Linked DNA regions of Homo sapiens: regions 2 and 3 are each linked to region 1. The links come from fine-mapping of genetic effects on gene expression. Tissue or cell type: whole blood. Region 1 holds a variant in brackets; each other region holds the start of a gene. Each region is shown on its reference strand, or each on the opposite one.

The links.
Region 2: LINC00482 starts here. The variant in region 1 is fine-mapped to the expression of LINC00482 in whole blood (TOPMed, PIP above 0.99).
Region 3: it holds the start of PELI3, and the variant in region 1 is fine-mapped to the expression of PELI3 in whole blood (TOPMed, PIP above 0.99).

What each region holds. Positions count from the first base shown.
Region 1 is chr7:149,749,124-149,757,297 of GRCh38, forward strand. No RefSeq gene overlaps it. Among named protein-coding and RNA genes, the nearest start is that of ZNF467, 20 kb to the right of the region's middle. The variant A/G (reference allele first, on the strand shown) is at 4,451.
Region 2 is chr17:81,304,283-81,312,456 of GRCh38, forward strand. LINC00482 (long intergenic non-protein coding RNA 482) reads right to left here and starts at 4,966. Exons shown (of 4, transcript NR_038080.1): 1 at 4,903-4,966; 2 at 3,348-3,562; 3 at 1,384-1,535; 4 at 1-1,080. It overlaps TMEM105 (TMEM105 long non-coding RNA), which reads right to left. Exons shown (of 3, transcript NR_165247.1): 3 at 6,983-8,174. RefSeq lists an enhancer at 5,330-5,389.
Region 3 is chr11:66,462,742-66,470,915 of GRCh38, forward strand. PELI3 (pellino E3 ubiquitin protein ligase family member 3) reads left to right here and starts at 4,164. Exons shown (of 8, transcript NM_145065.3): 1 at 4,164-4,286; 2 at 5,387-5,539; 3 at 6,092-6,163. The coding sequence starts at 5,388. RefSeq lists enhancers at 2,129-2,630, 2,631-3,130 and silencers at 4,082-4,291, 4,302-4,651.

The sequences.
Region 1 (8,174 bases):
TAAACGGGTAGGACATGACATCCATAGGACAACGATCATAGCTGAACAACCCTGGGATCAACTTGACCTTAGCTTAGCTAGATTCTTTCTTCCAGGAGTCTGGAATTGAGAAAGTTAGTCAATTGTTTGAATGACTACACCAGTAACTGGTCAATGTGGAAGCTATGGAGAGGCCACCTTTGCTGTGCTCTATGAGTGAAGAAGCAGGAAAGCTGGTCCACAGAGAAGGAAGGAAGGAATGCACAGAGAAGCAGGGGAGAAAATAGCGCATCTGGTGAGTAACCCTGGAAGAAAGCAGTTGTGTGGGGTACACAGCAGAGCAGAAGCTGAAGCGTGGTCATTTAGAGGGTGCATTGCCCTCATTAGGGAGTCCCTAATGAGGAGCCCCATACAGGGAGCAAGTGACCTAGAAGAACTCAGCAAAGGACCTCATGAGAGACAAAGTCACTATTCCAGCAGCATCCTGCCACACAGAGGACACCTGGGTTGGGTGACAACAACACTGGTCAGATGGGAGGCATTCTCCTTCCCCTCCTTCCTGTCATCCCCCTGGGGGAGCCAACTGGGGCCCAGGGTGTGAGGAAGAGCAGTGAAAGAACAAGATGGAGATCACTGAGACCTGGGCCCCTTTTCCCATCACAGCAGTCCCCAGTGAGATTGGAGAGATGCTTCAGAGTGGATGAGATATAGAAGTTGTGGGTTAGATGGTGCTAGACTTTTTAGTAACTGAAAATGAGACTATTCTAACTTCCAAGATATATTAGGATCCACCAAACATATGGTCCAGGAGTGGGTGTGACCAGAACTTCTCCTGCCCCTGTACACTCACTACCGTGCCATGGGTCTTGGCTGCTGTTCCCACCAAAGACGGTTTTCCCACCTCTTAAACCTTGGGGGGCTTTGTAACTTGATTTGATCAAGAGAATATGGCTGAAGTGACACTGTGTGAGTGCTGCAGCCATGGCTTCAGGAAGCCCTTACAGATTCTGCACCAGCCCCCTTGGAATACAGAGCTGGCATGTCGGAGGCCCGGGTCAGCCTCCTGGAGGAGGAGAGAGAGGCCTAGCCAATAGCTAGCACCAACCACTGGATATGAGAATAGGACCATTTTGGACCACCCAGATCCAGTTGGGCCACAAGAGCCACAAGGTAACTGTACCTGCAAGGAGGAACCCAGGTGAGACCAGCCAAAAACCACTCTGCTGAACCCAGTCCAAACTGCTAACCCACAGAACTGTAAGCAAATAAAAGGTTGTTTTAAGTGGCTCAATTTCGGAGTGATTTGTTACACACAATAAAAAAGTGATATAGCGAAGAAGGCAGATACAACAGAATGGGTTTGAATGCGACGATGAAAGAAGAAAATAAAGTTGTTTCTTGCCACTTCCCAAGTCCAGCTCATTTAATTTACAAGCAATATTTGCAAAAGGCAGATCCGGGCAGCGATGTGAGATTTTTCCCCTGGGTATTCTCAAGTGCCTAAATACCTACTTGGTTTAAAATAGATAATTCTCAGCTGGGCACAGTGGCTCAGGCCTGTAATCTGAGCACTTTGGGAGGCCAAGGCAGACAGATCACTTGAGGTCAAGAGGTTGAGACCAGCCTGACCAACATGGTAAAATCCTGTCTCTACTAAAAATACAGAAAAAAAAAATTAGCCAAGCGTGGTGGCAGGTGCCTGTAATCCCAGCTACCCAGGAGGCTGAGGCAGGAGAATCACTTGAATCCAAGAGGCAGAGGCTGCAGTGAGCCAAGATCGTGCCACTGTGCTCCAGCTTGGGCGACAGAGTGAGACTCTGTCTCAAAAAAAAAAAAAACAAAACAACATAGATAATTCTTATCTCTGGACTCTCCCCTTGTCCCACTCTGCAATGTTTCCCTTCGGACATCTCCTCACAGAGCTGTGGAAAGCTCAGAAGGCCCCTCTCTGAAGCCTGACTGCTGGTCACCAGCATTGGCCCTCAGAAGGCTGCTGCCAATCAGGGCTGAGGAGAAGCCGTGACCTTCACTGGGAATAGAAGTGGGGGCGAGGGGTGAGCAAGCTCTGCTTTCTTTCCTGAAACAGCAAAATGAGACAAGTGTGTGCACGCTGTGCTGCTGCAGCTGCGAAATGAAAAGCTTCTCATTAGCATCCTTTGCACAGGGGTAGGGGTGGGGGATAACTCAGGGACAGCTCTCAGAGTGCAGAGCTGGGGCTTCTGTTCCCAACCCAGGCCCCCGGCAGGCCCCCTAGGTGTGTCATCTGCCTCCAGCCCAGCTAGGCAAGTGTGCTTCCATCTGGGTTGGGGAGAGGGATGGGTGGAAGTCTCCTGTGGGGTAATTGTGAGTCCTGATCTGGTCCCAGAATGTGAGCCCACCTTAGTTGTGGGACCCTGGGACCTCCACCCTCCCCAGCCCGCTGAGCAGGGAGGGGCATGCAGAGCTGGGTGGAGGGGAAGCAGGTTCCTCTGGCCACACAGGCTCTTCCTGTGCCAGGGGCAGCCCAGGCACAAGATGACAAGGAGAACCGGAAACTAGCCAGCAGGGCCTGCCCTGCAAAATCATGGATTTCCTCTTTCCCTCCCTCCCACCCTTCAGGCCCCAGCAGAACCTCTCTCCTCCAGGCCTCCGTTCTGTCATGCAGGATGAGAGCAGAGGTTCTTAAACCAGCTCTGCGGACCATGTGGGCCCACAGAGGGGCTTAAAGAGGGTGTCCACATACCCTCTAAAATTACGTGCAAATCATTGTTTCTATGCACATTACTCTGAAGGGAGCTTTAAACAACTAAATGCTTGGTGGTTTGCTAAAGGTTAGGAACCGACAGCCTAGAAAATTCTCAGGCCTCTCCAACACTGACATTCCTGCTTTCCCCTTTCTGTCTGCTTTCCTGAGTGTGGTTCTCAGCTCTCTTCTTAGTTCAGGTAGCTCTCTTCTCATCTAATACATATACTTTGCAGTAACGGCCAACGAAGGTGGTATATTACAGTGAGGCTTTAAATGGGACATGCAGAGTATGTGAAACATACCAGATATCTAACTCACATAATTGCATTTGAGCAGTAAGTTTAGCTTTAACCATCTCAGCAGCCACATGAAAAAATAGATCGCTGAATTTATTAACTTTGGGATTTGTGTTTGCTGTCACCCTGTCTTAGTTCACAGCTATAACTCTGCAGGGGTGGATTTTAGGCACTCAGATTATCCGGTAGGGGAGGGATTTTGAGATGGGTAGGCCTTGTAAAGGCTCCTCTTCCACCTGTACAATTCAACATACGTGTTGTGAGTGTTCAAATGTGCCAGGTCCTGGAAATACCAAGACAAAAAAACACGACTTCCGCCCTCGAGATGTTCCCAGTGGGCCTGGAGAGATGAGGCTCCTACAAGGGTGTAACCTTTCTAAACCCCGGTTTCCTTACCTGAGAAGTGAGGACAGCAACCCCGTACCAAAGGGGGCTTAGGGGAATTAAGTAGGAGCCTCAGTCACAGGAGGCACTCACACATTTTAGGCACACGCGGACACACCCAACAACTGCAGGCGACATCTGGTAAGGTGGGAAGCAGAGGAACCATGACAGCTTAAAGGAGGAGATTGTTGTGTGCTGGGATCATTGGGGAAGGACACCCCCAGGAGGTGGCCCCCATCTGTGCTCGAAAAATAGGTAGGATTTAAAAGGGAAGTCAGGGCAGTAGGCACTTTGTGATGGGGAAGCCCAGGGAGGCCGGGGCAGGAGGCAGGAAGGACCACACGGCCCGGAGACAGGAACAAGACCGCTTGGTGTAAGGGAGGGTGTGTACCCAGGAGGTTTGGAAAATAAGTTTCAAAAGTTTGTTGGGGCCAACTGTAGAGAGCCTTGAGTTAGAACAGACATGTATTGCACACTGGCTAGGTGGGCACTCTGCTCTGTGCCAGGGAAGCTTGCCACCCCCAGAGGGACACACAGAATAATGTGGCACAATGTGTCAACCGCTAAGGCCTCTGGATATTCAGATGAGCAGAAGTTTCTAAGCTGGGGCGTAATAAGTTATAAGGAAGATCAGCCTGACAGTTGGAGGATAGATGGGGAAGCAGGAGTTGGGGAGAAGTCAGAGGGGGACCTGATAGGAGAAGGTTGCCCACTGGCCTGGGCTTGGGGGGACAGTACTGGGAGGGTCAGGGGCAGCAGGGGCAGCAGGGCAGGCATCTGCAAAGGATGAGCGTGCTATGACGCGAGCTCCATCATTCTGGAGAAAGAGGATCCTGAGGCCTTAGGAGTTCTCCTGGAAGCCCCACAGTGAAATCTCAAGAGAGAAAATCCCAGCGAGGACAGGGACACTGGGCCCACGGGAATCCTGTCTTGCTGGGCCGGAGGGGAGCCCTGGGTCTGGCTCCTGTAGAGCCTGAAATAGAATCCGATTTGCGATGCCCCTAATGATGTTATGTAATGACATTGCATAAGCCCGTTACGTAAATCAAAGTCCTGCTATTGACCA[A/G]GAATGTCCCCTGCCCCAAGGCTGACCTAATCCCACGCCTGAAGGCTCAGTCCTTTGTGGCAGTTGGATAAATCTGTTTCCTAAAGCCTCTGTGAAACCCTCCCGACCTTAAAGTCTCTGTCTTTAGGGTTCCTGGGGCCTCCTTCTCCGTTGCTGCTTCTCCACTGTGGGAGGCCTCAGTGTGACACTCACTCATCCTTCCCCAGGTGAGGGTTCCCAGGGAAGGACAGGATTCCAGTCCTTCCACCAGCGTGGAATTGTGGCCGTGCGCCCTCTTCTGGGGGTCTTGCATACTCCCTCTGACTGTGAAATACAAGACTTGTCTCTGGTTAAAAGACATTTCAAGGATCAGTAAGTGAGTGAAGAAGTTTTCTTCCCTGTGGGGCATGGGTGGCCTCCCCAGGACCCTGGAGTTAACAACTACGAGCAGGTTCTTGAGTCCCAGGAGCAGAAAGAATCTTTCACTACTGGAAACCAGCATGTCCCGTGAACGCACTCACCAACCTGTCTGCCTTCAGTCGGCCCATCTGTCTCCCTGAACATACTAGCAGAAGCCCTCCCACCCTCAACCCACCTCGCCAACCCCCACCCCGGCTCCCCTTCAAGCCCTCTCCCCAGCATAGGCAACATCTTCCTCGGGAGGCTGTCTCCTTCCTTCATCTATGTCTCTCTACAAGTAAATCCTGGTGTGCACACCACCACCCCCGACACATAAACACAGTTTACAGAAACACCAAACAAAACAGTCATGTTTGATGGAAAAAGGCTGAGTTCCCAGTTGCTCTTAGTGTCTCCTAAAAGTCAACTGTTTACTGTCCTATCAAAGCTATTTTACTGTTATAGGACTAGGAAAAATTTAAATTTAAAAATCACACGAAGAATAAAGTAACACAAAGCAAAACTGTTTATGTTTTATCTTTTTTTTTTTTTTTTTCAGACAAGTTCTTGCTCTGTCACCCGGGCTGGAGTGCAGTGATACAATCTTGGTTTACTGTAACCTCAAACTCCTGGGCTCAAGGCATCCTCCTACCTCAGCCTCTTGAGTCACTAGGACTACAGGCCTGCTACCATGCCTGGGTAATTAAATTTTTTTTTTTTTTTAGAAATGGAGTCTCCCTATGTTGCCCAGGCTGGTCTTGAACTCTTGGCCTCAAGTGATTCTCCCACCTCGGCCTCCCAAAGTGCTGGGATTACAGGTGTCAGCCACAGTGCCCAGCCTCTTTTGGCTTTTTTGAATGATATGACACATCTCCAAAACATAGCACAGGGTGGATCCAAGAGCTCCTGGGGTAAGAGCTGCCTGGACCCACAGGTCCACTCTCATGGGCTCTGATTAGAGCTGCACTGCCCCATTCCCTCCCAATACCAGGAGCCCTCATTTCAGCCTCAGCTCCCCCAACTTTGACACAGTATTTTACTCAAGGTCTCTGTTATGAATTGAATTGCGCCCCCCAAGAAGTCCAAAAAGTTGTGTTGAAGTCCTAGCCCTGGCCCCAACCTATGAATATAGCCTCTTGAAAATAGGATCTTTGCGGATAAAATCAGGATGAGGTCATTAGGGTGGGCCGTTCTCCAATATGACTGTTGTCCTTATAGGAAGAGGAGGGACACAGACATGCCCAGAGTGGAGGAGACCCAGGAAGAAGGTGATGGGAGGATGGAGGTAGAGATTGAAGTGCTGTGTCTATAAGTCAAGAAATGGCCAGGAGAAAGGCCTGGAACAGAGTCTTCCCTTGAGCCTTCAGAGGGAGTGTAACACCTGATTTCACACTCATAGCCTCCAGACCGTGAAGGAATAGATTTCTGCTGTTTTGAAGCTATGCAGTGTGTAGCACTTTGTAAAGGAGGCCTCAGGAAGCGAACACAGCAGCTTCGGTGAACGCAGTGCCACATGGCACAGCTCCCCCCTTGCCTGTGTGCAGGGGGCAGCAATGTCAGCAGGACAATTTTCAGGCAATTCACAGAGACTGTGGCTTGGAGTTGGGCCCAGGCTGGCCAGTGTCTTGGGAGTCTGTGAGGCCTCGACCCTCTTCCCAGGTTGCTATCTGCCTGCCCCATAAACACATCCTGAGACTTTGCTACCTTCCTTTCCCCCTTCCTTCCTGGTGTTCTCTCAGAGCTGTACCTGTCTGCACTGCCTGGTCTCCTTGGTACATCACCTGCTTGGACATCAGCCACCCTTTCTCAGTGCCTCGATTCAGGATGCCATAATATATGTTTTCTATGAAAATGAAGCTTCATTCTGCCTGCCGATTCCTACCTATTTTAAATCACAGCTGACATCCACGCCTCAACAAAGATTCCCATAGCTGTAGCTCCATGATTCATGATCGCGTCTAGAAAGGGAACATTTTGCAACAGATAGCCAGGCCCAACTTCCATGGCTTCATGCTTCTTCCCAGGTCTCTGCCACCCAGCACTGTCCTCTCCCAGGAGACAGATGCATGCTAATGCCACGTGTGTGTGTAACAGGTTTCCCGGCTGGCTGGAAGCCTGGTCCCCAGTTGCTTACAGTCTTGGCAAGTTAATTCACCTCCTCAGAGATGCCCTCCTGATCTCCAGGTGTGAGTCCCTGCTCCTTGCTCCTTGTTCCATGATCCTTTGCACATACTTCTCTTACCAACCCACTAGGTCCAACCGCGAGTCTGTGAGTGCCCTGAAGACCTTGAATGTGTGTCCTGAAGACCCCTCTCTGCAAGGGGACAGTGGAGCTTGGTGTTTAAAAGTACAGGTCCTAGGAAAATGCAAACCAAAATCACTCTGAGATGTCGCCTCAAAGCCATGAGGATGGCCAGTATCAAAAACCAGAAAATAACAATTGTTGGCAAGGATGTGGCGTCATTGGAAGCCTCATGCATGGCTGGTGAGAATGTGAAATGGTGCAGATGCTGTGGAAGACAGTATGTCAGCTCCTCAAGAAATTAAAAATAGAATGACCATATGATCCAGCAATTCCATATCTGGGTATATACCCAAAAGAGCTGAAAACAGGCACTCAAACAGACATATGTACACTCCTGTTCACAGCAGCATGATTCACAATACCATAAGGTGGAGGCAACCAAGTGTTCATTGGTGGATGATTGGATAAACAATGTAGTGTAGACATGCAATGGAATATTCAGCCTTAAGAAGGAAGGAAATTCTAAGACCTGCTACAGCATGGATGAACCTTGAGAACATCATGCTAAGTGAAATAAGCCAGTCACAAAAGACAAACACTATGTTATTCCACTTATAGGAGGTCCCTAGAGTAGTCAGATTCATAGAGATAGAAAGTAGAATGATGGTTGCCAGGGATTTGGAGAGGGGAGAATAGGGTTTAATAGGCACAGAGTTTCAGCTTTGCAAGGTGTATTAGTCAGGATTCTCTAGAGAAAGACAACCTTGGGGTGTGTGTATATACATGTAGAAAGAGATTTGTTTTAAGGAATGGGCTCATGTGATTACAGGGGCTGGCAAGTCCAAAATCTATAGGGTGGCTTTGGCTGGCTGGAGACCTAGGGAAGAGCCGATGCTTCTGCTGGCTGAATTCCCTCTTCCTTGGGGGAGGTCAGTCTTCTGTTCTGTTCAACTGATTGGGTAAGGCCTACCCACATTATGGAGGATAATCTGTTTACTCCAAGTCCACCAATTTAAATGTTAATATCATCCATAAACCCTCATATAAACATATAAAGATAATGTTTGGTCACATATCTGGGCACCATGGTCTAGCCAAGTT
Region 2 (8,174 bases), not on the chromosome of region 1:
CGGCCGCAGGCCAACAGACGCCAAGGATGATCTCAGCCTGTGGAAGAGGGGGCGGCCCAGGACAGTCCGGGCTCACGGCCTCAGGGAGCCACCCCGATGGGCTCTGGCCTCGGGAACTGCGAGGCAGTTTCTGTTGTGTGAAGCTCCCCAGTCTGTGGACCTTGTTCCTGCAGCTCGGGAAACTCACACCGCACATCCTGGCGCGCAGGCCAGGCCGCCGCCCGGGTTTGAGGCCTTGCTGCTCCCTTGCTGCCCCCAGCCACCCGCACACTCTCACGGAGCCCAGCTCACGACACCCATGTAGTGTGCGACACTTTTGGAGAACCACAGGAATGTCCTTGATTAAAGCGTGCGCAGGGAGAAACGTGGCCTTGTTCCCACAGATGCCCACCAGGGTCCCTCACCTGCTCCCCCTTGGCGCTGGCCTTGGCCCCTTCCAGCCTGCCCCACCAGGCGGCCGCTCTGGTCCAGGGGCCTGGGTTTGGTCCCTTCCTTGGGCACTTGCAGGCGCTCTTCCTGGCCTGTCTGCCCTCTGCCCTCCCCTTTTCCTGGCCTGTCTGCCCTCTGCCGTCCCCTGCGGCATCCCCCAGCCCCAAGGGCGGTGGTCCCATGGCCAGACGGGATTCCTGTTGGGCTCCCGAGCTCTGGAAATGCGGCCGCTGCTCTGCAAATGTGCCTTCTCTGGGCCCTTCCGCCCTTCGAGTCCATCTCCCTCCCTGGCCTCCACGGTAGGTCCAGGTGAGCAGGGTCCCCTGTGGCCCCCACAGTCCCCTTGTGTCACCAGGCACCATCTGTCCCAGCCTAATTGCTGGAGCTGCTGACATCTGGGCCGGCCACAGTGCCTTCGAGGGCCTGGTTGGTCTCTGAGGCACGGCATCCTGCAGCTGAGGGCCTTCCCTGACGGCTGTGCCCTCCACCAGCCAGGGCCCAGGCACAGCCCCTGAGGCAGGGTGTACATCCCTGGAGGCTGCGGTTGGGGAGGTGGTGGGATGAGCTGCCCTGTACCATGGCTGCGTGTGGGAAACAGCAGGAGGCCGGGGGAGCAGTGAACGGAGCTGGGCCCGCTTCAGGGATCTCGGCCTAGGGCAGGGGGTAGAATAAGGGAACAGAACCAAATTTGTCAGGGGGTGTGAAAGCTGCAAAGGGCTGGTCGGACAGGGAAAGGGGTTCTGGAGGGGAGGGTTTCTTTGTGTAGTGGGTGGAATGGTGGCCTCCAATATGTGATGTCCAACCAGAATCTCAGAATCTCAGAATTGGAGCAAGGGTCTTTGCAGCTGTCATGGAGAGGTTATCTGGAGATGAGGTCATCCCGGATCATCCCAGGGGGCCCTAAGCCCAACGACCCTCATCCTTATAAGGGATGGAAGAGGAGGAGAAACTCACATGAGATGAAGGCAGAGGCCAGAGTGATGGGGCCACAGGCCGAGGAGCACGGGAACCAGGGGGAGCTGGAAAGGCGGAAGGGCTCTGCCCAGAGCCTCTGGGGGCAGCAGGGCCCTGTGGACACCTTGGTTTCAGGCTCCCGGCCCTGGGAGCTGTAGGAGGACACCTGTGCTGTTGTGAGCCTGCCACCCTGGGGTCCTCCATGTGGCAGCCCAGGACCCCAGTGTTCTTTGTTCAGTGGTTCTGGGGTCTCCGAGGTGCTGGGAAGCACAGGTGTGGGGGACCTCAAGACAGGTGGGGCTTTCCCAAAGGAGCAGAGGAGGCACCTGCAGAGGGGCCCAGAGAGCACACCCGGGTTCAGCAGATGGTGTAGAGGGCGCCCGGGCAGAGGATGCACGGGCAAAGGCCCTGGGTTGTGCAGGGCGTTTATAGACGTGCATGGAGTCGGGGAGAGGAGGGCCGGCCCTGGGGGCCGCCTGGGCAGGGCTCCTGCCCGCAGACCAGACCCAGACCTGGCCAGTCCACTCTGGGAGAGTCAGGGTCGGGGGAGCAGGAGGGGGATCCGCAAGCTAGAAGGGTCTCGGGGCTGGCCAGGCTGAGGCCGCGCAGCCTGTGATGAAGGGGGCCGTGAGGGGCTCTCTTCTCCTGAGAGAATTCTAGAACCAGTGGGTGGCTCAGGCCCTGAGACTGGGCGTACTGGGGTGTGTCCATCTGGGACCCAACATGGCAGCCTCCCAGGCCTCAGGAGCTCTCTGGCCTGTGCCACGTGTCCCCAGTGCCCTGGTGGGCTCTGTCCCTACACAGCAGCTTCTTGGGTAGTAGGTGGGCTGCAAAGGGATATCTGAGTTGGGGGTCAGGGGCTGCAGCGACTTGAGCTCAGCCCAGGTGCATGGTGTGAGGAAGCTGTCCCTCTAGACGGCTCGGGGCCCTGAGCTCAGTGCTCCAGGCCTGCCCCCACGGTCCCTAGAGGGAGGCAGGTGGACAGGACATGCCTGGACAGGACAGAGCCTGGGCTGGCAAACACTTGGAGGGGGCTGGGGCTCCCGCCTGCCTCTCCCCAGCACCGTCTCAGCACAGGTGAGCAGAGAAACCAGACCCTCCCCCTCAGCCTGTTGGAGGGCAGAAGTGAACACCCCTGTCCCCCAAATCCCTGTCATGCTTTTTTGAGCCCCAGGAGGGGACACGGCATTGTCCTGGAGCCACAGCATTGGTCTGACTCTGACTCGCATTCGATGATGGTGGACCCGTGGGCAGGTCACGCTCCTCCCTGGGCCTCAGGAGCCGCCCAGTGCCAGAGCCGGGGGCACAGCATGGCAAATGTCATTCCCAGCCTGCCTGGCTGCCTGGCAGCTCTCGAGAGAAGCCCACAGCCCCGCTCCTGTCTCCCTGCTTCCTTTGAGTGAGGCCCGGCCTGGCCCTCTGCCGTGTTCAGGCCACCAGCACCGGCTGCACAGCCAGCGCCCACCAGAGTTGACTCCTCGGGCCTCTGAGCACCTTCCCACTGCCTGGAGTGGCCGGCTGACCAGCGTCCATGCACTGCCTTCCCCACCCAGAGGCATCTCCCTGTCATTGTTGAGTGCGCAGTTCCCAGCTAGCAATCACCTCCCCATCCTCACGAGCACCGGGCATGGTCCTGTGACTACAACCTGAGCAATATAAGCAGAAGGGCTGGGCCGACTTCATGGCTTGCCAAAAGACCCTCCCCCTCCCCCTCCTCCTTCCCTTTCTCTTCCCCCTTCCCCTTCCCCTTCTCCCCCTTCCCCTTCCACTCCTCTTCCCCTCCCCCTCCCCCTTCCCCTTCCCCTTCCCTTTCTCCTTCCCCTCCCCCTTCACTTTCCCTTTCTCCTTCCCCTTCCCTTCCCCCTTCCGTCCCCCTTCCCCTTCCCCTTCCTCTTCCCCTCCCCCTTCTCTGAATCAGGGTCTCACTCTGTCACCCAGGCTGAGGTACAGTGGTGAGATCATACCTGGGACCACAGGTGCACATGGCTAATTCTTGTATTTTTTGTAGCGACAGGGTTTTGCCATGTTGGCCAGGCTGGTCTCAGACTCCTGGGCTCAAGTGATCCACCAGCCTCGGCTTCCCAAAGTGTTGGGATTACAGGTGTGAGCCTCCATGCCCAGCCCCAGCTGAAAGCTTTTCAGTAGTCTTTTACCTTCCCTCCTTTCTCCTTCCTGCTGCCTGGAATGCAGATGCAATGGCTGGAGCTCCTGCGGTTGCTATGGAACCATCCTTGACTTCTCCCTTTCAGTCACACCCCTCATCCAATCTATCGGGAAATTCTGTTGAGTCCATGTTCAGATATCCACAGCTTGGACCACTTCTCCCCACTTCCTGTGTCTCCACCACGATCCGGGTTATCTCTCTCCGGGATCGTCATGTTCTCCTCACTTCCGTCCTGGCCTCCCCATGGTCTGTTCCCACCCAGCAGCCAGAGGGTGAGACCATGTCAGCCTCTGCTCAAACCCACCCTCAGCCCAGGTCCTCACAGGCACCCTGCAGGATGCGCCCTGCCTCCCCTCGGGCCCTCCCAGCACCCCCTAGCTCACTGCCTGGCAACCCCACTCCTGCTGGTGGGCCTACAAAAGCTCTGTAGCATTTGCTGAGGAACAAATGAAACCTGGACCCCAGGGATGGAGGCCGTGGTGGGGGGGCACCATGGAGAGGGGGAGGCACTGTAGAGGTGGGGACACCGTGGAGATGGGGGGGGCGCCGCCCCAGCCCGGCTGCCTGCCCACCACCCATTGAGCAAGCCTCTGGTATTTAAGCCACTGTTTGATTTAGGGCCCAATGAACGAAGCCAGCCAATAGCAATCTCTCACTGTTACCCTCTCCATTTTATAGATGGAGAAACCGAGGCTCAGAGAGGCAACGCAGTGTGCTCAAGGCCACAAGACTTCTAGGTGTGGGCCTGGGCTGCATGCAGGGTGAAGGTTATCATGACCCCCAAGCTCAGGGCACCCCAGGGATGCAGCTCTGACCCCTGCCCTGAGGATGGGACACTCCAACCCTTTCTCTTTTTTTTTTTTTTTTTTGAGACGGAGTCGCACTTTGTTACCCAGGCTGGAATGCAATGGTGAGATCTCAGCTCACTGCAACCTCCGCCACCTGGGTTCAAGTGATTCTCCTGCTTCAGCCTCCGGAGTAGCTGGGATTACCGGCATCTGCCACCACACCCAGCTAATGTTTGTATTTTTAGTAGAGATGGGGTTTCGCCATGTTGACCAGGCTGGTCTCCAACTCCTGACCTCAGGTGATCCGCCCGCCTCAGCCTCCCAAAGTGCTGGGATGACAGACGTGAGCCACCGCACCCGGCCAAACACCCCAACTCTTTCTGCTGCATTGAGTCCAGCAGGGTGCCCTGAGGGACTGGCCCCGGGGACATTTTCAGCCACTTTAGGGAAAAGAAGACGTAATGCTCACACTAACCGCCCCACACCCGACTCCAGGCTGGCCTGGCGCCATACCCTCGGGGTCTCCAAGAGAGGCAGGGCTGGTCCCCACCCACCACCTCCCCTCACCTTGGTCTTGGTGTGTGGAGCCCTTGGCCAGGTCCCAGGCAGTCGTGGGTAACACCGCAGACGTGTGTTACCCAGGGCGGGGCCCCTGAGAGCTGGGGTGGTTCAGAGCCCGTCCCCACTCCGGGAGCAACGTCAGGGCGGGGCGGGGCTGGACGGACAATGTGACCTTTGCAATGTCCCCGAACAAGAACTGCAGATGGTAATCACGGCCACCAGGAGGAAACTTCCTCTGAATCTTCCACTACCGTGGTGTAACTAGGGAGGGTGTTGGAGCATTCAGCGAGATAAAAAGCCTGCTTTTGTCTACACTTTTTCCGTTTTCTAAAAATTCCAGACACAAGGGGAGAGCTGCCCAAACACAGAGGTGGAGAGGAGCCTGTCCGGACACAGGGACACAGGCAGCTCCGGCAGTGACCACTTGGGCCTCAGAGAAACTCACAGGTGGCCACTACTCCTGTTTGGAGCTGGAGGCAGATCATCTGGGGCGCCTCGGGGTAGGGAGGAGCTGGTGGACAGCACGCCCCACTTCTTCCCCAGCCCCTCCAGGGGGAGCTGCCATTCCGCAGCTGGTCCACCCAGCCCCAGGAAGGGGGAGGCTCCCCAGGACAGTAGCCCAAAGAGCAGAGGGTCTCCCCGAGAAGGTGCACCCCAGGCAGGGCTTATCCACATACCACTAGGCTGGGGGCCCTGCTCCGGGGGGTTGGGGTGGCTGGAACCTTAGATGGTCCCATCCTGTTGGGGGGCTTCCTGGGCCGCTTTGCTGCTCCCAACTGTGGAAGGTTCTCTCTTGCCTTCCCTTTCCTGCTGTTAGAAGCACCCCAGCCCCTCCAGGCAGCCCCCAGGGCCCGAGTGATGAATCACTGACTTCTTGCCAGGCTCCGGTCGTGATGCGGGGTGGCAGAGGGATGTGGGCAACGCAGCTGGGAGTCCCGGGGCACAGCCGGGCTCTCTCCAGGCTCCCCATCCAGCAGCTGCGCACCCCCCCAAACACACGCCGGGCTCCCCGCACCCGGAAGCTGCCCACAACCGGCAGGACAGGTCGGTGGGCCCCGGGGAGGAATGCAGGAATGCTGCGTGCCCAGGCGAGGGGCCCTGCGCCCGCCCAAGGGGCTCTCCAGCTGCGCAGGGGCCGGGGCGGATGGAGCCGGGGTAATTAAAGCTGGTGACAGCTGAGGAGGGATAGAGACAGGAACACAGGTGGGGTCCCAGGCCCCTCCGCTTGCTCCCCAGGCAGAGGGCTGGAGCGGCCCCCAGGAGAGTGCCACCTTCGTGGGGCAGGAAGAGAAGGTTGCAGGGGCACTGGGTGTCAGTGGACATTGAGGTCTAGGAGAGGCCAGCTCTCAGCTGCAAAGGGCAGGCAGAGTCACCATGTGCCGGGCCTGGCCGGGCCCTCCCAGTTCCCATCCAGACACCCAGACACCCAGACACCCAGACACTGGTCTCGTCCAGGCCATCACGTGGTCAGGAATGGTGTCTGCCTTTGATAGGTGAGGACCCGGGTGCTGTAGGATCTGCTGCTCTAAATGAAGGCAGGCGGTGCTGCCCCAGCGGGAGGACAGCAGCTCCAGGCCTGACAAGGCTCTAGGCCTCAGCTTCCTTATCTCTCCCGAGCCCAGGTTGACATCCCTTTCCCACCTTCCACAGCCAGAGGACTAGACAAGTGTCTTCACCGGAGCCTCGTTTCCTCATCTGAAATATAGCGCTAACCACCCCTCCCTCCCGTGGCTGTGGCAATAAATTAAATGAAGCCCACAGAGGACCTAGCACACAGTACGTGCTTAATCAATACAGAACCCCTCCCCCAGCACTGCCCGCCCTTCCCCTGGAAGCAGCCACGCTTACCTCCACCACCTCCTCTCCATGGTCATCAAACACTCGTGACAGGCCGGCCTCCCCCTGCTGAGACCCTGAGAGGTCCAGGCCTCTGCTCCTCGTCTCTGCCACGCCTGGTGTCATGAGGGTGAAACAGGCCCTTGGGGGACGTTCGGACTGGCTTCCTGTGATGGCCGCCAGCATTAGTAGCGTTGTTACTGCTGCCTGGACACACACAGACGCCTCACAGAGCAATGCAACATGTGGGTGAAGTTTTCAGATAAAATCGGAGATTTAATAGAATTCCCGCAGGGTGCTGAGCTCCAAACCCAGGCCACACATGGCACACGCAGGGCCTGTCAGGGCTGGGGCTGATGACCAGGGTCAAGGGGATCCCAGGGCCCTCCAGCTCTCCCCCAGCTCCTGATGTGGAGGGGAGGGAACTCCCGCTCACCCCCAGAGAGAAGGGAGTCCACACACCGCATCTGAGCTGGCGGTGGGCAGGGTACCCACCTCGGTGAGCAGCCTGGGGTGGGCCTGGGGTCAGGCTGAGGTCCCGGTGACAAAGGCTGGGGAGGTGGATGCAGACAGCCTCCACTTTCACCATGGCCTCCCTCCTCTGAGGCCAGGCCTGGGATGCTTCTGCCCCACAGCTCCGGTCCACCTGCCAGGCCTGTCCGTCCTTGGATGAGGGCAGGGAGAGGTGGGGTGGCCACTGGCAAGTAGAGACTTCAAAAGTGCACGGTGGCCCTTCCACGCCCTTTGCTTCTTAGCCCCCAACCCTCTGCCAGGCTTTCTCCCTTTTTCCCACGCCCCGCACAGACAGGTATCCTGCCCTCAGCATCTCACAGGGGTGAGTGGCAGCCAGGAGCAGCAGCAGATGCCTGTGGGGAGATGAGACGCCCTCAGCTCCCAGGCCCCGCTCCTGGGGAAAAACAGGGCCCCAGGAAGGTGCCCCAACCGTTCCTGGGGGCCCCAGCCCCGAACAGGGGGTCTTGAAAGGGAACTCTTGTGTGGTGAGTGCCCCCTGAGGGCTGAGCCACAAGGTCACCTTGATTTCTCAGCGGACGGAGGCTGAGCTGGCTAGGGTTCCAGGCTGGGTGTGGGAGGGTCACCCCAACAGGCGATGCCCGAGAGGTGTCCGGGCCTGGCTTTCCACGAGGAAGAACCAGTCCCCTGTGCCATCTGCAGGGCTTGCCACACAATCTGGGGACCCGGTGCAGGAGGAGAATTCCTGGCCACTTGTTTAGGAGGCAGGAAAAGGGCCGGGCGCGGTGGCTCACACCTGTAATCCCAGTGCTTTGAGAGGCCGAGGCGGGTGTATCAGGAGTTTGAGATCAGCCTGGCCAACATGGTGAAACCCCGTCTCTACTAAAAATACAAAAATTAACCGGGTGTGGTGGTGCACTTCTGTAGTCCCAGCTACTCGGGAGGCTGAGGCAGGAGAATCGCTTGAACCT
Region 3 (8,174 bases), not on the chromosome of region 1:
GATCACATCAGAAAAACATGGTATAAAGTTGAAGCCAAGAGGCCAACAGTATGCCTGTAAATTCCCTAAGACTTCAGGTCTAAGGCAATAGAACCATTCAAACAATAAGGGCTTCTAGAAACGTTAAAGGATTTGTCTATCAGCATGAGCCCAAGGTAGGGGGGCTTATCTCAAAGAGATTTGTGGGCATAGTCTAATGAAGTGAATAAGGTCCATAGAAATCTACAAAGTTTTTAAGAGAATTGTATTGGCAGAAACACTGACAACTTGGACTGTAAAGGACAGAGACAACAGAAATGGAAAAGAGGCATTCGAACCCTCAAACTTCTATAGACAGGATGCAGGCCAAGAAAATTACTCAGCTGCAAACACAGACTACCTTTTATGGAAAATGAAAGATGACTCAGGAAGTAGAACTAAGAGACCAAGAGCCATGGATTATTATTCTCAGGCCTTGCTTCAAGGGCTTTCCTCTAAAGCTAGAGACCGAGAACTGAAGCCCAGGTCGCCTCTGCTCTGGATCCCCAAATCCATGTGAGGGATCTGTCTTTTCCCAACCCCACCCTCCCCGTCTGGCATGGCCTCAAGGGCAGAACCTAGCATCTTAGCTCTTCCTTCTCCTCTCCAAATCTCCCAGCCCAGAAAGAATGTGCTGCTGTTGTTTTTTTCTCTTCTTAATTTTTTTTAGAGACAGGATTTTACTCTGTTGCCCAGGCTGGAGTGTAGTGATGTGATCATAGCTCACTGCAGTCTCGATCTCCTGGGCTCAAATGATTCTCCTGACCCAACCTCTTGCGTAGCTGGGACTACAGGCAGGCACCACCATGCCCAGCTAATTTTTTTAATTTTGTAGAGACAGGGTCTTACTATGTTGCCCAGGCTCGTCTCAAACTCCTAGCCTCAAGCGATCCTCCTGCCTTGGCCTCCCAAAGCATTGGGGTGAGCCACTGCGCCCAGCCCTGTTTTGTTTTTTCCACATGTTTTCTCAACTAGATATACAACTACTTTTCCAAACTATTCCAAGCCTCTCCCCTTCAGGCATTAGAACCCAAGAATTAAAGAAATAAAGTTTCGGCCGGGCGTGGTGGCTCACACCTGTAATCCCAGCACTTTGGGAGGCAGAGGCAGGCGGATCACAAGGTCAGGAGATCGAGACCATCCTGGCTAACACAGTGAAACCCCGTTTCTACTAAAACTACAAAAATTAGCCAGGCGTGGTGGCGGGTGCCTGTAGTCCCAGCTACTCGGGAGGCTGAGGCAGAAGAGTGGCGTGAACCTGGGAGGTGGAGCTTGCAGTGAGCCGAGATTGTGCCATTGTACTCCAGCCTGGGCGACAGAGCGAGACTCCGTCTCAAAAAAAAAAAAAAAAAAAGGGGTATCTAGAACTAGAAATACCATTTGGCCCAGCCATCCCTTTACTGGGTATATACCCAAAGGATTATAAATCATGCTGCTATAAAGACACAGGCACACGTATGTTTATTACGGCAATATTCACAATAGCAAAGACTTGGAACTAATCCAAATGTCCAACAATGATAGACTGGGTTAAGAAAATGTGGCACATATACACCATGGAATACTATGCAGCCATAAAAAATGATGAGTTCATGTCCTTTGTAGGGGACATGGATGAAGCTGGAAACCATCATTCTCAGCAAACTATCGCAAGGACAAAAAACCAAACACCACATTTTCTCACTCATAGATGGGAATTGAACAATGAGAACACATGGACACAGGAAGGGGAACATCACACACCGGGAACCGTTGTAGGGTGGGAGGAGGGGGGAGGGATAGCATTAGGAGATATACCTAATGCTAAATGATGAGTTAATGGGTGCAGCACACCAACATGGCACATGTATACATATGTAACAAACCTGCACGTTGTGCACATGTACCCTAAAACTTAAAGTATAATAATAATAAAATTTTTTAAGAAAGAAATAAAGTTTCTATTTTATTCCTTTCTTTGAACCAACAGGGACAAGATCTAGATTGAAGAGAGAAAAGGGAGGGTTGACAAAGGAATTTCAAAGCAATACTGCAAAATCCTATTCACCACAAGTATCATTATTATTCCCATTTTACACATAAGGAAACTGAAGCTTAGTGAGATTAAGAAGCTGGAGTTCTTGGAGCAGAGCGCTGGATTTAGAGCCAGAAGCCAAGGTTGGAACTTAGGCATCTGCTACTGGTGTCCTAACTCTCCCTTCCTCTCCCTTACTTGGGCAATCCTGGTGTCGGGCCCACCTCAGCCTCCCTGAGGCCTGATGGTCTGGCTGTGCCACCATGCAGCTCCAATCCCAGTACTGCCCCAGGAGAAATCCCTGCCTCCTCCTCCAGTGAGTCTTGGTGATCCCTCTCAGACCTTCCTCCATGCAGTCCAGTGTCAGGTGGAAGCACTGGGGCTCCTGTGAAGCATCAGCTCCACATCTGCCTGGCTTGTGACCTGGGGCAAGTTTCTTCTTCTGCCTGAGCCTCAGCTTCCTGGTGTGTAAATTGGGGATTATAACAGGGATTCAGTATATATTCACTGAGGACCTGCTCTGGCAGGCAATGCATTAAAAGCTGGGGGTACACAAGGGAGTGAGGCTGTCCCAGGGTCCCCGTGCACACCCAGCACAATGGACGCCTCTGGTGGCATCAGTGAGGGCAGCTATCCTGTGTCACAGGGTTTGTGTGACCTGCAGCCAGCAGCCCAGCGGTCTGGTGGTGTCCTGCTTGGTGGAAGTCTCGCAGGGAGATTCTCTGTGACTAACGAGTGTCTTTTCCCCTAAAGGATGTGCCGTCGGCTGCTTTCTTGTTTCATCTAGCCGCTGGGCCCCAGAACAGTTGGCAAAGCAGTTGGTATCTTTGGCTATTTTTAGGTGGAGGAGTTAGCGGGGTGGATATAGTAGGGCCCCAGGGGAGTCTGGTAGATGGGGAACTTCAGGTGCAACAAGTTTGTGGGGGTGGGAGTGGCAGCGGCTCCCTCTCAGGAATGTTTAGGCAAACTAAACATGCATCCTTCATAATGGAAGTCAAAAGCCACCTCCTCTGTGCAGTCTTCCTTGATTTTCTCATTAAACACCCCCACCGCCCCCCACAAGACCAAAGACTTGATCTGGAACTATAATCCAGCCTTTATAGTTCCAGACCAAGAGTACTGAGCAATAGGGACCTTACCTGATGCAGACAAGGTTTCTCTTCTGCACCTCTGAGGCTCCATCCCTAGTCAGAACGACAAGGTACGAAGTTAGGAGTTGAGACTGAAGCCACTCATACAGCTGAGATTCTCTCTTGGCCCGTTTCTAGCAAACTACAACAAGCAAGTCACTTTTGTAAATCTATTTCCTCATCTGTAAAATGGGCAACTATCGTGCCTGCCTCCCAGGATTAAAGTAAAGGGTTTAATTTGCTCAAAGCACAGCGCACAGCGCCTAACGTAGACTGATAGATCTCTCGCAAGCCCCAGGCCCAGAAGGGGCGGTGCTCCCCCAAAACTCTCTTTCCTTTGCAGCACAGCGGGGGGTGTGTGCATCCTGGCGGAGGGGAGGGGACTGAGGGGAGGGGAATGGGGGGTGCCCGAGCTGGGCTGGAAGACAGGTCTGCGACTCTGGTCAACTGCAGCTGCTTTCCCCGGCCTCCACCGCTGCCGCACACCCCCTTTGCCTTTAGCATTTTCCTCCTCTCCTCTAATTGCGTGGCGTCCCCAGATGGTAGGCGGGGTGTCGGAGCTGGGGGTGCGTAGTCCCGGGCCTAAGGCTAGGGAAGGGGCCTCCAGCGCCGTGTGAGGGCCCTGACCGACAGTGGGGAGGGGCGCCCATGTCTCTGGGAGAACCCCGGAGTCCCCGGAAATGGAGGCGGAGTTTGGGGAGTCTGAAATGGGGGAGGGGTCGTGTAGACTACGGGGGAGTCCTGAGCCGGCTAGGAGGGGCAAGGGAGTCCCTCAGACGGAGTGGAGAGCGGGGCTTCCCTGGTCAGAGGGCGGTACCAGGGGAAGGGCGTGGTCTCCTGCGAAGGGGCGGAGCTCCGCCTACGAAGGCTGAGCATCGCCGCAAGAGGCGGAGTCTGGAGCGAGGCGGAGCTCTCCTAGGGGCGGGGAAAATGGGGCGGGGCCTCCGGACAGGGGGCGGAGCGTGGCTGTTCGCGCTCATCCCCCTCCCCCGGCCCTGGGTGTCCCCGTGACGAGGCAGCGCGGAGCCGCCGCGGGCCGGGCCCATCCCGCCGCAGCGGCCCGGGGCCGAGCAGGGGCTAGGCGGGGAGGGAGCGGCGCCCAGCGGGGCCCGGAGCGTGGCCAGGTGAGGCCGCCGGGGCGGAGGGGGCGGGGGCTGCGCCAGGCGGGCCCCGGCGGGCGCGGGGGGCGTGTTTGCGTGTCTGGGGGTGGTGGAGGGAGTGGGTCCGAGGGCGGGCGCCGGTGGCTGCTGCGCGCCCGCGCGTCCCTGCGGTCGCGGGTGCGGGTGGTCTCTGCGCCGTCCGGGCCCGGGGCGTGCGGGGCCGTGCACGCGCGCGTGTTGTGCGGAGGGGCCGCCGGGTGTGGACCTGCGTAGGTGCTGGGCCGCGGTTCCCGTTCTGCCCGCCCGGGGCGCAGGGCGCGGGCCTGCCCCGGCGCGGTCCCTCTGGCGCGGGGATGTTTTCCAAACGGGCTGCCTGCGGGAGACGGCTGTGCTGCAGCCCGAGCTCGAGGGGGGAGCGCCGCCTCCGCAGGCCTCCTGAGACCCGGGCGGCTGGGGACGCAGACAGACACCTGAGGGAGGGAAGAGCGCGCACCCAGGAGGAGTCTATTGGCCTACCCGCAGGGGGAGGCCGAGATGGGGAGACTGAGGCAGATGGTGAGGCGGAGGCGGGCAGACAGGCAGAGATGGGGAATGGGGGGAGAGAGACGGCAAAAAGGACAGCGGCTGGGAGGACAGAGAGTCATTGAGAAAGCAGATGGACAGACAGAGGCCTAGACCTCAAAGGGGCAAGAAAGATTCAGATGGACAGGTAGATTCAAAGAACCTGTCAGAGAGGCTAAATCAGAGGTCCAGAGGCTAAGAGCTATAAGCAGGAACTGAGTCTGAGATGAGGGGTAACGGCCCCCAACTCATTGGGTGCCCCGCTTTGAAGCACATCCCAGACTGGGATCTTGGCCAAAAAGCAGCCTCTGGCCACCCCAAGTTGGTCCATCTCTTTGGCACCACTGAATATCCTGACTCTCTTCACTGTGCCACCCCTCCCTGGTATCCCAGCAACCTCGGGCAGTTTAGAGGAGGCAGAGGGGAAGTGGTTGCCATAGCAGTAGAGGCGGTGAAAGGTCACCCTTGCCTTAGCCTAGGCGGCCCTGCAGCAGGCTGCAGCTGGAATTGAGCCGGGCTGGGGTGGGAACCTACAAAGCTCTTTTCTCTCCCACTCTGCCCAGAATGGTGCTGGAAGGAAACCCTGAAGTGGGGTCCCCCCGAACCTCAGACCTCCAGCACCGGGGGAACAAGGGCTCTTGCGTTCTCTCCTCTCCCGGTGAAGATGCGCAGCCAGGCGAGGAGCCCATCAAGTATGGTGAACTCATCGTCCTGGGGTGAGCATCCCTGGCCTAGAAGGGGTGAAGCACCAGACACCCACCCAACGCAGCCAGAACAAGGGCCCGACCCCTCCTCCCCCCACATAGGGCCTTCAGCTGTTTGTCCCTCCTCACCTTCCTAGCTGAAAGACAAAATTGACCAAACCCACCTCAATTCATAATTATTATTTTATCTTCCCATTTTTCACAAAGTACTGTGACAACTCTAACCACCCAACTTCCTGATCAGATGAGAAAAATGTTAACACCAGCTGCCTTTCCTAAAGCACCTAGTGTGTGTGGTGTGGGGTGAAGAACTCTGGTTCTCCAGCAAAACTGCTTGGTTCAAATCCTGCCTCTGCAAGTTGCTGAACTTCCCTGTGCCTCTGTTTCCCCTGTTTTGCAAATGGGGATGATAATAATCCCTTCCTCAGAGGGTTGTTGGAAGAAATGAATGAGGTGATTTCTGTAAAGTACATAGAACAGCGCCTAGCACATATCGAGTGTTCTGGGAGGCAGGCCTGTGCCAAGCCCTTTCATGGACATTATTTCATTTCAATCTTCACAAAGATGCTGTGAGGAAGGAGGTGAGGAAACCGAGGCTCAGAGAGGGGAAGTGACTGGCCCAAGGGCACACAGCTGGTAAGTGGCAGGGCTGGGATTTGGACCCAGGTCTTTCTTACTCTAGGTCTAGTGCGCTTTCACTAAGCCACAGCTGACCCTCACACTACAGATGAGAAAGCCAAGGCCAGGAGAGAGGAAGCAACGTGATCTGGCGGCCTGGCCAACCTCATCCCTTCCTGGTCTTTGCCTGACCAGGATCCCTGCACCATCCACTCAGATCTTTCCCCAGGGACAGACCCTCTTCCTCCTCCCCCATCTGGATCTCCTTTTGGCCTCTCTTTGCCATCAGTCCTAAAGAAACTATTTGATAAGCTATATTATCATTAAGATTTTTTTTTAATGGCTGTTTGTTGACACATGCTTTAAAAAAAAAAAAAGCAGTAATAGTGAACACTTATCAAGGGCTTCCTATAAATATGCCAAACTCTGTGCCAAGCGCTTTTAAATGCTTTGTCTCATTTAGTTCTCAAAATGAACCTGCGAGGTAGGTCCTAAAAAATTAGCTCCATTTTACAGAGGTCATGTGATAAGTGGAAGAGCCAGATTTAAGCCAGGCCCATCTGTGTCCCAAGCCTGTGTCCTGAACTGTCCCACCTCAAGACCTGCCCCCCATGTGTGAGAAGAGCTCACAAGGGCAAAAGTGATGTCTCCCTTGGGAGAAGCTGCCTTGGAAAAGCAGCTGCTTCATATCCCAAAGGCAGGACTGGCTTTCCAGCCCAAGGCAAGGCCACTAATGTGGGAGGCTGCAGACCCATGGGTATGGACCCTCCTGTCAGCCCCCTTGGGGAGCAGAGTCCACACTGGCTGCATATCAGAGCTGGCTGGAGGGCACTGAAAATACACATTGACAGGCCCTCTCCAAGCCTACAGAATCACAGTCGCAGTGGGTGGGACCAGGGAATCTGTTTTTTTTTTTTGTTTTTTTTTTTTTGAGACAGAGTCTTGCTCTGTCACCCAGGCTGGAGTACAGTGGCACGATATCAGTTCACTGCAACCTCCACCTCCTGGGTTCAAGTGATTTTCCTGCCTCAGCCTCCTGAGTAGCTGGGATTACAGGCACCCACCAGCATGCCTGGCTAGTTTTTGTATTTTCAGTAGAGACAGGGTTTTATTATGTTGGCCAGGCTGGTCTTGAACTCCTGACCTCAAGTGATCTGCCTGCCTCGGTCTCCCAAAGTGCTGGGATTACAGGTGTGAGCCACTGCGCCCGGCCTCATCTGGATTTTAACAAACTCACTAGAAGATTCTGATTCAAGTGGCCTTGTCTGTATTTGGCAGCTCTTTGTCCTGTCACTTCCTGTTCCCAGACCTTCCTGGCACCCCACTGGTTGTTGAATAATGTCCTCAGCCTGGAGTTCAGAGCCCTCCCACCAGTGTCATCTCCCCCACATACTTCACCACCAAAGCCACCATTCCCTGATCTCATCAGACCCTGCCAGCCTTGGGCCCTTTGCTTAGGGTGAGCCTCCATCTAGAGGGGCTTCTGGAGTCAGAGAGACTGGGCTCAAATCTGGACATTTTCACCTACTAGCCAGAGGCAAGTCACATTACCTCCCTGAGCCTTGATTTCTCTCATTTGTAAGATGGGCAGAAAGCCACTTGCCTGGCAGGCCACTGCACAGATTCCATTAGGTGATTGATAACATGAAGGCCAGGAACACAGAGGCAGCAGCCCATGGCAGCGATGAGAGCTATGCCTCACCTCCTCTGTGCCTCTCACAGCCATGCCCTCCAGACAAGAGCTGGAAAGGCAGGTGGAAATTTGACATGTATGGACATATGGAGGTACTGGCATTGTGTGTCATTTTTTCCTTCCATTTTGGTTTTGAGTAGTGGTGTGATAAGTGACAGCTTACTACAGGTGAACCCTTTCTAGTTCTTCAAAACCCAGTAGAGGTGTTCCCTCTCCCAGAAACCTGATCCTAGGGCGAGAATTCCCTTTTCTTCCTCTAGGCTTATGGCATCCTTGGCTTGTGCCTGGGTGTGGCAGGTGGCACCTAGGTTCCTGGAGAAGCTGAGGAACCCCTCC